Homo sapiens: one gene and its partners. The protein of the gene in region 3 purifies or fractionates together with the protein of the main gene of each other region. This does not show direct contact. Each region holds a gene or a part of one and is shown on either strand. Other genes may lie near its edges.

Evidence for each region. The genes of interacting proteins can lie anywhere in the genome.
Region 1: the proteins of TRAF3IP2 (region 3) and INVS purify together in Homo sapiens (affinity purification with mass spectrometry; one large-scale study listed by BioGRID and IntAct). This does not show direct contact.
Region 2: the proteins of TRAF3IP2 (region 3) and TNFRSF13C purify together in Homo sapiens (affinity purification with western blotting, with the first as the bait; one study listed by BioGRID). This does not show direct contact.

The regions. Positions count from the first base shown.
Region 1 is NC_000009.12:100,097,829-100,102,042, forward strand, and holds the start of INVS (inversin), read left to right. Parts: upstream 1-1,414; 5' UTR 1,415-1,588; intron 1,589-4,214. Other genes in the region: ERP44 (endoplasmic reticulum resident protein 44 precursor), read right to left, coding at 956-1,012. UniProt on the Homo sapiens protein: Required for normal renal development and establishment of left-right axis. Probably acts as a molecular switch between different Wnt signaling pathways.
Region 2 is NC_000022.11:41,924,007-41,928,077, reverse strand, and holds the start of TNFRSF13C (tumor necrosis factor receptor superfamily member 13C), read left to right. Parts: upstream 1-1,271; 5' UTR 1,272-1,304; coding exon 1,305-1,440; intron 1,441-1,746; coding exon 1,747-1,977; intron 1,978-2,523; coding exon 2,524-2,711; 3' UTR 2,712-4,071. Other genes in the region: CENPM (centromere protein M), read left to right, coding at 96-273. UniProt on the Homo sapiens protein: B-cell receptor specific for TNFSF13B/TALL1/BAFF/BLyS. Promotes the survival of mature B-cells and the B-cell response.
Region 3 is NC_000006.12:111,557,880-111,560,878, reverse strand, and holds part of TRAF3IP2 (E3 ubiquitin ligase TRAF3IP2), read left to right. Parts: intron 1-1,327; coding exon 1,328-1,474; 3' UTR 1,475-2,999. UniProt on the Homo sapiens protein: E3 ubiquitin ligase that catalyzes 'Lys-63'-linked polyubiquitination of target protein, enhancing protein-protein interaction and cell signaling. Transfers ubiquitin from E2 ubiquitin-conjugating enzyme UBE2V1-UBE2N to substrate protein.

The DNA.
Region 1 (4,214 bases), on a different chromosome or scaffold from region 3:
CTTCATATGCGTCACTAAATCGTTTCTTAAATTGTAAAGAAAGTAGTTCTTAATGTTTAAATCTGAATTTCTAAAAATCTACTACAATTAAGGTACTTTCAAATATTACATTATAATTAACAGCCCAATTAAATATAAGCCATTTTGCCATACGTGTTTAGTCCTTCGCTTTTGTCTCAATTTGACCTGAAGCCTGGATCAATTAGTCTGCACACTCAAGACGTACTCTGGGGCAAGAGGGACTAGGGAAAGATTCTTTTAAGATGGGATGATGCTGAGCAGGTTAGGCAGTTAGGAATGAATGCATATTCAAATAAGGCGCAATGAAGAAGAAATCTGCTTCCATGGGGAAATACGTTGCAATAAGATTTGAGGGAGGCCTTGAGCTGAGATTGTCAGGTAACCACACCTTCCACCCTTCAAACTCTATTCTCCCAGTGGAATCCAAACCAGTCTCCAGTTCCGGGTTCCCAACCAATCGCATCAAGCCACAACAGAGGGATCTGCCAACCCGGGCACCGCTTCAGGGATCTAGACCCAGTGAGAGTCACACAACCCCAGCACCTGTCGACCTCACACTCTTCCCAAATGGAGAGGGTGGGAAGGAACGCTAGGTCTATGCTTGGTCTTTTCCGATTCAAGCTACCACCAGGTCCACTAGCCCTCGAAACCGAAACCCCCGGACTTCGGGGAGAAGGGGAAGCTCCTACGCCGTGACTACGTATCAGTCCCTCAGGGCTAATTCTCCCATTCTCCCCCGACACTGGTTTCTCAGGCCTCGGGGACTCCGCGCCTGGAAGCCGACAGGCGAGAGTGAGGGCAGCGGGGGAGGGTGCACTCCAAAACACTGCAGGAAAAGACGGAAAAGCAGGGGCAGGAGTAGCAGTGTTCCCCCTGGGCGAGGGCCGGAGGCCGTTCGTGCGTTTGTCGATGGGTCTGTCATTCCCTCACTCACCAGGAGCAGAAGGGAGCATCTGAGGTCGGGTAAGGATAGGAAGACGGCAGGATGCATGGTAACGCTGGGGTCCGTGACAGGGACAGGCGCTGGCGGCTGGGACTGGGCTAGGTTGGGTTGGGTTAGGAAAGGGCTGGGCTCCGGGAGCCGACGGCAGCGGAGGATTCTCCAGGCAGCGGCACCTCGTCCTCTCGACCCGGGCTCCAGCGGCGAACACCCGGGACAACTTCCAGAGAGGCCTCTCACACCCTCACTTCCGGGTCCTGCCCACCTCGGTGCACTTCGGGAAATGTAGTCCTGCACTAGCCTCACCCCGCACGTCGTCCGTCATCTAGAACTTCCTTTCCCATTGGGCTCTCGGCCCCGGTCCACTGAGTCCTCTGCGCGCGGGGTCCTGTGGGATAGAAGGGCGGAGGGCGGGTGTACGCGGTGCTTCAGAGGATGGGAACTACAATTCCCAGAAGGATGTGCGGCCGAAAGCCTCGGGCGGCCTTTTGAGGGGCTCGGCTAGCTTCAGCGCCGTGGGGTCTGACCTGGCTGGATATAGTGTACCGGCCCGGCAGGAGGGGCGGCCCGGTCCGGGTTGCGCCTCCTGGAGCCGCCCCCGGGACGTCAGTCCTGGAGGAGGCGAGGGTGAGTAGGAGGGGGCCTGGCTGGGGAGGCTCAGATCATTCGGTCCGCACCGCCTTGGCCCCTGCTGCAGACTCACGGCCTTCCTGGCCTAGGCTGTGGCCTGAGCCTCCATCATTGGCCTCCTCGCCCGCTGCCTCTTCTTTCTGCTCTAATTCCTGCATTATAAAGTCAGAGCCACCACTCGGGGCCTCAGTTGAATGAGTCAATGACTTATCCCTGATTGTCTCTGAGGGCTCCTGTAAGGAGTAGATGTGGTACGGGATGGGATAGCACGTCGTAAACTGGAAAACTGTGTGAGTGATTGCTGCTAAGGCGTGGATCGCTCCTCCAGTATAATTACGAAATTCCCTAGCAAAGCAGTCGAGGATCCTAACTTGGCCCCAGGTAGCTCTGCGGCTTCTTCTGCAAACACTCAGTGAGGTCCAGGAGCCCACGCGATCTCTGCTTAGTACCCAGGAGGCACACTGTGCTTTTGTGGTTCTCCCTGCTCCCGCCTTTGCTTCAGCTTTCCTGCTGCCTGGAATGGCCTTACCCGTTCTCTCTCTGGAATGCTATCTTAAATGTCACCATCTCTGAGAACTTCCCGAACAACCAACCCTTTAGTCCTAATCAGAATTACTCTTCCTATGAGTGTGACTGCAGTACCTCTAGTTTTGTACGGTTATAATTATTAGAGCATTTATTACACGGGCTTGTTGTATAATTAGGCAAGGATGATGACACCTTTGCATTTTATAGCACTTTATCAAAGTGGTTTTGACTTTTTTCTATAAAAAATGATTTATTTTCTTAAAGGGGCAAAAAATACATTTTTTCTTAAGAAAAAAAAAGAGCCCTGCATAATGGCTTTCTCAGGGTGACAAAATTAGACAGTGATAGAGCCAATACTCTTACCAAGGCGGCCTAACTCCTAGACTAGTGCTCCTATCTCTTGTCCACGCCCCTGACAGAGCCCAAAGATAGTTGAAATGGGAAATTTTAAAAGAGCAGAGACTTGTAAGTATGAACTCATTATTCAAGAAATTAAACTTTGATCCTGCTCACTTTTTGGACTTAGCACTCAGCCTGTGACCTTTCATCCAACAAACATCTACTGAGTACTGGCTATATACCTGTTACTGTGCTAAGTGCTAAGAATTATGAAGTAAAAAGTATATATATATAATATATATAATATATGTACATATAATATATATAATATATGTATATATAATATATATATTATATATGTATATATAATATATATATTATATATGTACATATAATATATATATTATATATGTACATATAATATATATATTATATGTACATATAATATATATATTATATGTACATATAATATATATAATATATGTATATATAATATATATTATATATATAATATATGTATATATAATATATATAATATATGTATATATAATATATATATAATATATGTATATATAATATATATATTATATATGTATATATAATATATATTATATATGTATATATATTATATGTATATATATAATATATATAATATATATACATATATATTATATATATAATATATATTATATATATAATATATATGTATATATAATATATATATTATATGTATATATATTATATATATTATATATGTGTATATATAATTTATATATGTATAATATATACACACACACACATATATATAAAACAGAGATCACATTTTTAGTGTATTTTTCAAAGGGTATAAAGAACTTTTTTTGTGGTTCTGATGTGCCTAAAACTCTGATCACTTAGAATGAAAAATGACAGGTCTTAGAGTTTAGAACAGTGCCTAGCACATAGTTGTCACTCAGCTTGTTGAATGAACGAATGTGAACATGGTCTAACCTTATTATTTTTTGCATTTTACAGAAACCTAGAAAGCTGACATAGCCTGAGGACACACTGCTGATTATAAATACAACTGGGCCTAGAACCCAAGTGCAGTTACTCCCCTCCCATGTTTTCACCTCCACCTCTATTTTGTAGCTTCTCTCAAATAACCTTAATATAATCCTGGATATGACAGTAGTTCTTCTGACATGACTGTTAGACTCAGACATGACTGAAGTGTCTCACAACACCCTCTTCCTCCATATTTTCTGCCAGTCCTTAACTCAAATTGTCAGCAAAATAAAGACGTAAGGAGCTGTGCTTTACCATAATTAAGAAAGTATTAATATGTTCTCTCAAGGGCAGAATTTGAACCAATAATCCTTGTCGATGACAAGACAAATACCAGCTCATCCGTTATAAATTTATCTTAGAAAACTCTCAGATCCCCAGGAGTAACAGCGATTGGCGTGACCTGCTTTTTGGTGAAATCAGAAAAGGACTTGCCTACCCTCATGGCAGCAATTAACTGGAGCTGATTAACAGCTGCTCCCTTTAGATAAGTACATATGCTTGAGTTTACCGTGATTCTGTGACTCCCTACGTTTCTAACAGTTGTTACCTCTCTGGTCCTTGTAGGCATTCAGCTTTGGAACTTTGATAAAGCAGCTTAAGGGTTTAGGAAGGATGTTTAAGATCACTGATGCAACTATTCATCTTTCCTTCCCATCAGGTGTTTGAATTGTTGCTGCATTTCTCCAGCCTCTGCTTTCTTAAACAC
Region 2 (4,071 bases), on a different chromosome or scaffold from region 3:
CAGTCCAGCCTTTCGGTCCCAGCACTCCCTGGACTTCCTGTTTGGGCCTCCAAGCCTTTGCTCCCCTTTGGCCTTCACCCCCATCTGCTCCCTAGACCTCAGTCCATCTGGCAAACACTTCACCATCGCCCTCTCCATGAAGCCTTCCGGCCCACCTTCCAGGATGACGTGAGCTGGTGCCCTTGCTGCGAGGCTGTCTTCCCCCATCAGCACAAGTGTGAGATTCCCTCAGGGCAGACCCACATGCTACTTGGGCCTGGTACAAGTGTCTGATGTCAGGCTGGGCACTGTGGCTTCACACCTATAATCCCAGCACTTTGGGAGGCCGAGGAGGGCGGATCACCTGAGGTCAGGAGTTCGAGACCAGCCTGGCCAAATGGTGAAACCCCACCTCTACTAAAAATACAAAAATTAGCCGGGCATGGTGGTGCATGCCTGTAATCCCAGTTACTCGGGAGGCTGAGGCAGGAGAATCGCTTGAATCTGGGAGGCAGAGGTTGCAGTGAGCCGAGATTGCACCACTGCACAGAGCCAGACTCTTTTTCAAAAAAAAAAAAAAAAAAAGCAGGTGTCTGATATCCCCAACCAGCTCTGTCCAGGAAGGGCAGGAAGAGAGGAGGAGACAGGTGGGTTGGGGGAGATGGCAGGGGAGCACTCGGGGTCATGGAGAGGCTTTGGCTAGACGGAGCAGAGGAACCACTCAGGGTCTGTGTCCTGGCTGCGGGGTCCATCCCCCTCCCTACCCAAGAGGAGGCTCTGGTCTGCCCCCAGACACCTCCCAGCACCCAGCAGAGGGCCCACCCAGGCGGTGCTGGTTGAGGGGCTGAATTGGGGAACCACAGGTAGAAAGAGAGGCCAGGCCGGGTGCGGTGGCTCACGCCTGTAATCCTAGCACTTTGGGAGGCCGAGGCAGGTGGATCACGAGGTCAGGAGTTCAAAACCAGTCTGACCAAGATGGTGAAACCCCGTCTCTACTAAAAATACAAAAATTAGCCGGGCGTGGCAGTGGGCGCCTACAATCTCAGCTACTCGGGAGGCTGAGGCAGAGAATTGTTTGAACCCGGGAGGCAGAGCTTGCAGTGAGCCGAGATAGCGCCATTGCACTCCAGCCTGGGCGACAGAGCGAGACTCCGTCTCAAAAAAAAAAAAAGAAAAGAAAGGGGGGCCCCAGGCGAGCTCGGTCCCACCCAGCAGGCGGGGGCGGGGCAGGGCAGAGTGCTCCCCCCGCCCCCCGCTTCCTCCCCGAGGGCCCCGGAGCCCAGCTCAGCCTCAGTCCCCGCAGCTTGTGCGGCGGCGTCGGCACCATGAGGCGAGGGCCCCGGAGCCTGCGGGGCAGGGACGCGCCAGCCCCCACGCCCTGCGTCCCGGCCGAGTGCTTCGACCTGCTGGTCCGCCACTGCGTGGCCTGCGGGCTCCTGCGCACGCCGCGGCCGAAACCGGGTAAGGGGGACCCACGGGGCGCGCGGCGCCGGCAGCTGCGGGGAGAACGGGGCCCCGATCGCCAGGGCGCAGGCAGAGCCCCGACCCCCGGGGGCGCCGAGGGCTGAAAGGACCCTGTGGGCAGGGCCTGGAGGGGCCCGCGATCACCGCGTGGCCCTCACCGCCGCCTCTCTCCCTCCCCTTGTCCACCGCCCCCCGGCTGTCCCTCCCCTCCCCGGCCAGCCTCGCCCCCCTCCGCCCCTCCCCGTCCCCGCTCCTCCCTCCCCTCGGCCCCCTGGCCTCCCTCCCTGTCCCCTCCCGAAGCAGCCGGGGCCAGCAGCCCTGCGCCCAGGACGGCGCTGCAGCCGCAGGAGTCGGTGGGCGCGGGGGCCGGCGAGGCGGCGCTGCCCCTGCCCGGGCTGCTCTTTGGCGCCCCCGCGCTGCTGGGCCTGGCACTGGTCCTGGCGCTGGTCCTGGTGGGTCTGGTGAGCTGGAGGCGGCGACAGCGGCGGCTTCGCGGCGCGTCCTCCGCAGAGGCCCCCGACGGAGACAAGGACGGTGAGTTCCGTGTGTAGGGGAACCAGTCTGAGCGGGGCGCAGGGGCTGGGGTGTCGGGACGGTCTAGGGGGAGATGCATGGCCCCTGAGGGGGAGAGAAGGGCTTTAAGGGGAAACGGAGACAGAGTGGAAAAGAGTTTGCGCTGAGGAGCTCAGGCTGGGGAGGGAGACATAGTCCTGCCCCTGAGACCCTGGTCGGAGCCAGGAACAGCTCTGCCCTGACAGACCCCAGTGTGAGGAAGAGACAGGTTGCAGGAAGGGGGCCCCGTCTGAGGGAGGAGTCTGTCCTGCCCTTTGGGAGTCTAACGGAGCTTGGTTCCCCCATAAATCCCTGAAGAGTTTGCCAGACTGAGCCCCAGCTCCCCAACTCCCTGCCCTGCCAGCTCCCCACTGGCCAGGCCTCTGGACTCAGGGTCAGCCAGGTGCCACCCCTCCCCACCCTGCATTGGGCTTCATTTGACGGAGGACTGCCCCTCCAGAGGAGTCTTCTAGGGGAGGGAGGGAAGGCTGTGACTGAGTACGGAGCCTCTACCCCCTCTGCCTGCAGCCCCAGAGCCCCTGGACAAGGTCATCATTCTGTCTCCGGGAATCTCTGATGCCACAGCTCCTGCCTGGCCTCCTCCTGGGGAAGACCCAGGAACCACCCCACCTGGCCACAGTGTCCCTGTGCCAGCCACAGAGCTGGGCTCCACTGAACTGGTGACCACCAAGACGGCCGGCCCTGAGCAACAATAGCAGGGAGCCGGCAGGAGGTGGCCCCTGCCCTCCCTCTGGACCCCCAGCCAGGGGCTTGGAAATCAAATTCAGCTCTTCACTCCAGCATGCACATGCCCTCTTTCTGGGACCAGGCTAACTCTGCAGAAGCACAGACACTACAGACCACAGCATTCAGCCCCCATGGAGTTTGGTGTGCTTGCCTTTGGCTTCAGACCTCACCATCTTTGACAGCCCTTGAAGGTGGTAGCCCAGCTCCTGTTCCTGTGCCTTCAAAAGGCTGGGGCACTATGAGTAAAAGACCGCTTTTAAAATGGGGAAGGCACCATTAAGCCAAAATGAATCTGAAAAAAGACCAAGTGGGAGGATGCCTAATTTGTAGTTGGGTGGTTTTTTGTGTTTGTTTGATTTTTTTTTTTTTTTTTTTTTTTTTTTTTTGAGACGAGTCTTGCTCTGTCGCCAGGCTGGAGTACAGTGGCGCGATCTCGCCTCACTGTAACCTCCGACTCCTTGGTTCAAGTGATTCTCCTGCCTCAGCCTCCCGAATAGCTGGGATTACAGGCACGCACCACCACAGCCAGCTAATTTTTGTATTTTTAGTAGAGACGGGATTTCACCATGTTGGCCAGGATGGTCTCGATCTCCTGACCTCGTGATCCGCCCTGCTCGGCCTCCCAAAGTGCTGGGATTACAGGCATGAGCCACCATGCCCGGCCTTGTTTTGTGTTTTGGTTTTTTTTGAGACAGGGTCTTGCTGTATCACGCAGGCTGGAGTGCAACGATGGGTCCCCAGCTAATTGCAGCCTGGGCTCAAGCAATCTTTCTGCTTCAGCCTCCTGAGTAGGTGGGACTACAGGTGCTCCACCTTGCCCAGCTAATTTTTTTTTTTTTTTTTTTTTTGAGACAGAGTCTCGCTCTGTCGCCTAGGCTGGAGTGCAGTGACGCAATTTCGGCTCACTTCAAGCTCCGCCTCCTGGGTTCACACCATTCTCCTGCCTGAGCCTCCTGAGTAGCTGGGACTATAGGCGCCCGCCATCACGCCCGGCTAATTTTTTTTGTATTTTTAGTAGAGACGGGGTGTCACCGTATTAGCCAGGATGGTCTCGATCTCCTGACCTCGTGATCCGCCCGCCTCAGCCTCCCAAAGTGCTAGGATTACAGGCGTGAGCCACCGTGGCTGGCCTTTTTTTTTTTTTAAAGACAGGGTCTCGGTATGTTGCCCAGGCCAGTCTCAAACTCCTGGCCTCAGGCAGTCCTCCCCGAAGGGCTGGGATTATAGGCAGGAGGCGCCGGGCCTGGCCTCTATTTCTTTAATACCTGCCCTCAGAGCCGTCCTGCTTTTAAACTGATGCAAATGGCAGCAGTGAATAATCAATTCATG
Region 3 (2,999 bases):
CTGATATATTTCATTGTCCCTTTCTTAAGGGTGCTTAATTCTAGCACCTTGGGTCAATGGTATGTGTTTGGGTTGAGGGTACTGGGAATAATTGTTGAGAATTATTGGAGCATGGCGATATACAAAATAGACCAAATTTTCATTGGTTTTGTTATTATTTTTAAATCTCCTTCAGACAATGCCCGTATTACCTGAGCCCAGCACAGGCCGCTCTCACCACCTGTCCCCTTGGTACACCATTGACTAGAAAATCATTTGTTGACATTTTGCTTTCATCCTAAGATTTGAAGTCCTCAAGGCAGTCCCTGCGTCCTTTTCATTTGGGCATCCTCAGTACTCAGTATGATGCCTGCCATGCAGCAGGTGCTGCTTCTAAGCACAATACCTAGAGAAGTCCCGTCCTATAGTCCCTAGGAGTTAGACTCAAAAGCAAAGGCCTTATGGTGGCCTACAGGGCACTATCCGATACAGCCCCTTCTACTTCCAGACCTCTGCACCTACTCACTCTGCTCTACTCACAGTGGCCTTGTTGCTTGTGAACAGACCCAACACACTCCCTCCACAGGGCCTTCGCACTGACTCTCCTATCTGCCTGGACCCAGACAACCACAGAGCTTGCTTCTTCCACTCTTTTAGGTCTTTGCTCATTTTCTCAGTGAGACCTCTCCTAAGCACCCCGTTTAAAACTGCAAATCTTTCACCCTTGCCCCAGCACTCCCTGTCCCCTTTCTTGTTTAATTCTTCTCCACAGCATACATCACTGTTGAACACACTATCCATTTACTTATTATCTGCCTCTCCCCACCAGAACATCCACTCCATGAGGGCAGTCTGACACTGCACCCCCAGGATCCCTGGCTAACAGTTTCTGCCTCTGCCTGATCACTGAGGTCTGATGGGCTCCTTCTACTGCAGGCCAGACCTGGGGCTGGAGTGAAAGAGTAATGAATTGATTTAAGCCTACGGCCCTGGCATACTTCTTCTGAAGTCACAGGGGAATTCACATCACTCTGTGTGACCTCTGTCCTACCCCTTTTATGTGAGGGTGGTGAAAAGCAAGTTGAAATGCAAAGGGTAGGTAGTCTGGGAGACTGACAGAAAATGCTGTGCACATGTGGTTTTTATAATGAGATATACAGCTTGTACCCGAAGCCAAGAACATTTCACATGCTAAACCTTTCCAAAAGCAAAACAGCACAACTCCCAGGATAGTTTGGTAGGAAACGCCCATGTAGGGAAAGCCAGAAATGTTTGGGAACTGAGCCTGGGATCTGGCATCCAGGTTTTTCTCTAATGACCTTTGCTCCTGTCATTCTGCCTCCCATAGGAGCATGTGCCCACCTGGCTTCAGAACACTCATGTCTACAGCTGGCCCAAGAATAAAAAAAACATCCTGCTGCGGCTGCTGAGAGAGGAAGAGTATGTGGCTCCTCCACGGGGGCCTCTGCCCACCCTTCAGGTGGTTCCCTTGTGACACCGTTCATCCCCAGATCACTGAGGCCAGGCCATGTTTGGGGCCTTGTTCTGACAGCATTCTGGCTGAGGCTGGTCGGTAGCACTCCTGGCTGGTTTTTTTCTGTTCCTCCCCGAGAGGCCCTCTGGCCCCCAGGAAACCTGTTGTGCAGAGCTCTTCCCCGGAGACCTCCACACACCCTGGCTTTGAAGTGGAGTCTGTGACTGCTCTGCATTCTCTGCTTTTAAAAAAACCATTGCAGGTGCCAGTGTCCCATATGTTCCTCCTGACAGTTTGATGTGTCCATTCTGGGCCTCTCAGTGCTTAGCAAGTAGATAATGTAAGGGATGTGGCAGCAAATGGAAATGACTACAAACACTCTCCTATCAATCACTTCAGGCTACTTTTATGAGTTAGCCAGATGCTTGTGTATCCTCAGACCAAACTGATTCATGTACAAATAATAAAATGTTTACTCTTTTGTAAGATTATGTTTTACTTATCTCAAAGGAGATACATATAATTTATAATGATATGGGCAGTTGCTTCCAGGGACATCAACAAAGCTGCTTAGATATAATATTAGATAAATATAACAGACCACTCTGTATTAATGGATTAAAGCCAGCTAGTTAAACAACCCTTTTTAACCATAATCATGGAAGCTTTATTCTTGCAATAAAGATTTTTAGGCTGGGCGCAGTGACTCACACCTGTAATCCCAGCACTTTGGGAAGCTAAGGCAGGCAGATCATTTGAGGTCAGGAGTTTGAGACCAGCCTGGCCAACATGGTGAAACCCCATCTCTGCTAAAATTACAAAAAAGTTAGCCGGGCATGGTGGTGTGCACCTGTAATCCCAGCTACTCGGGAGGCTGAGGCAGGAGAATCACTTGAACCCGGGAGGCAGAGGTTGCAGTGAGCCGAGATCATGTCACTGCACTCTAGCTTGGGAGACAGAGCGAGACTCCGTCTCAAAAAACAAACAAACAAATAAAAACACCCATTTTTAACAAAACAACTTTATATAGCATACAGCCATGATTCTAAATAGTATGATTATGGTTCTCAGGATCTGACTACATAGGTAAAAATATTTGCATATGTGTATGAAGTGTTGGGGGATGTAGGCTAGAATTGTAGTCTGTGTTCTAATTTTGGTTCTACCACCAATTAGCTGTATGACCTTTAGCAAGTCCTTTAACTTTTCTTAGATTCCAGGGACTCATTTATAAAATGACATGGACAAAAGCATCTCTAATCACTCTAAAAGATTTGAAGTCTAGGACCTAAATTCTAAATACTCTTTTGAGGAGTGACTGAGTTTTCATTTTCATAATTATGTCTCTCAGAGGACAAATTTACATTTTCTTAACAGAGACATTTTCTTCTTCTTTTTTTTTGTTTGAGACAGAGTCTCGCTCTGTCGTCCAGGCTGGAGTGCAGTGCTGCAATCTTGGCTCACTGCAACCTGCGCCTCCTGGGTTCAAGTGATTCTTCTGCCTCAACCTCCCAAGTAGCTAGACCTATAGGCGCCTGCCACCATG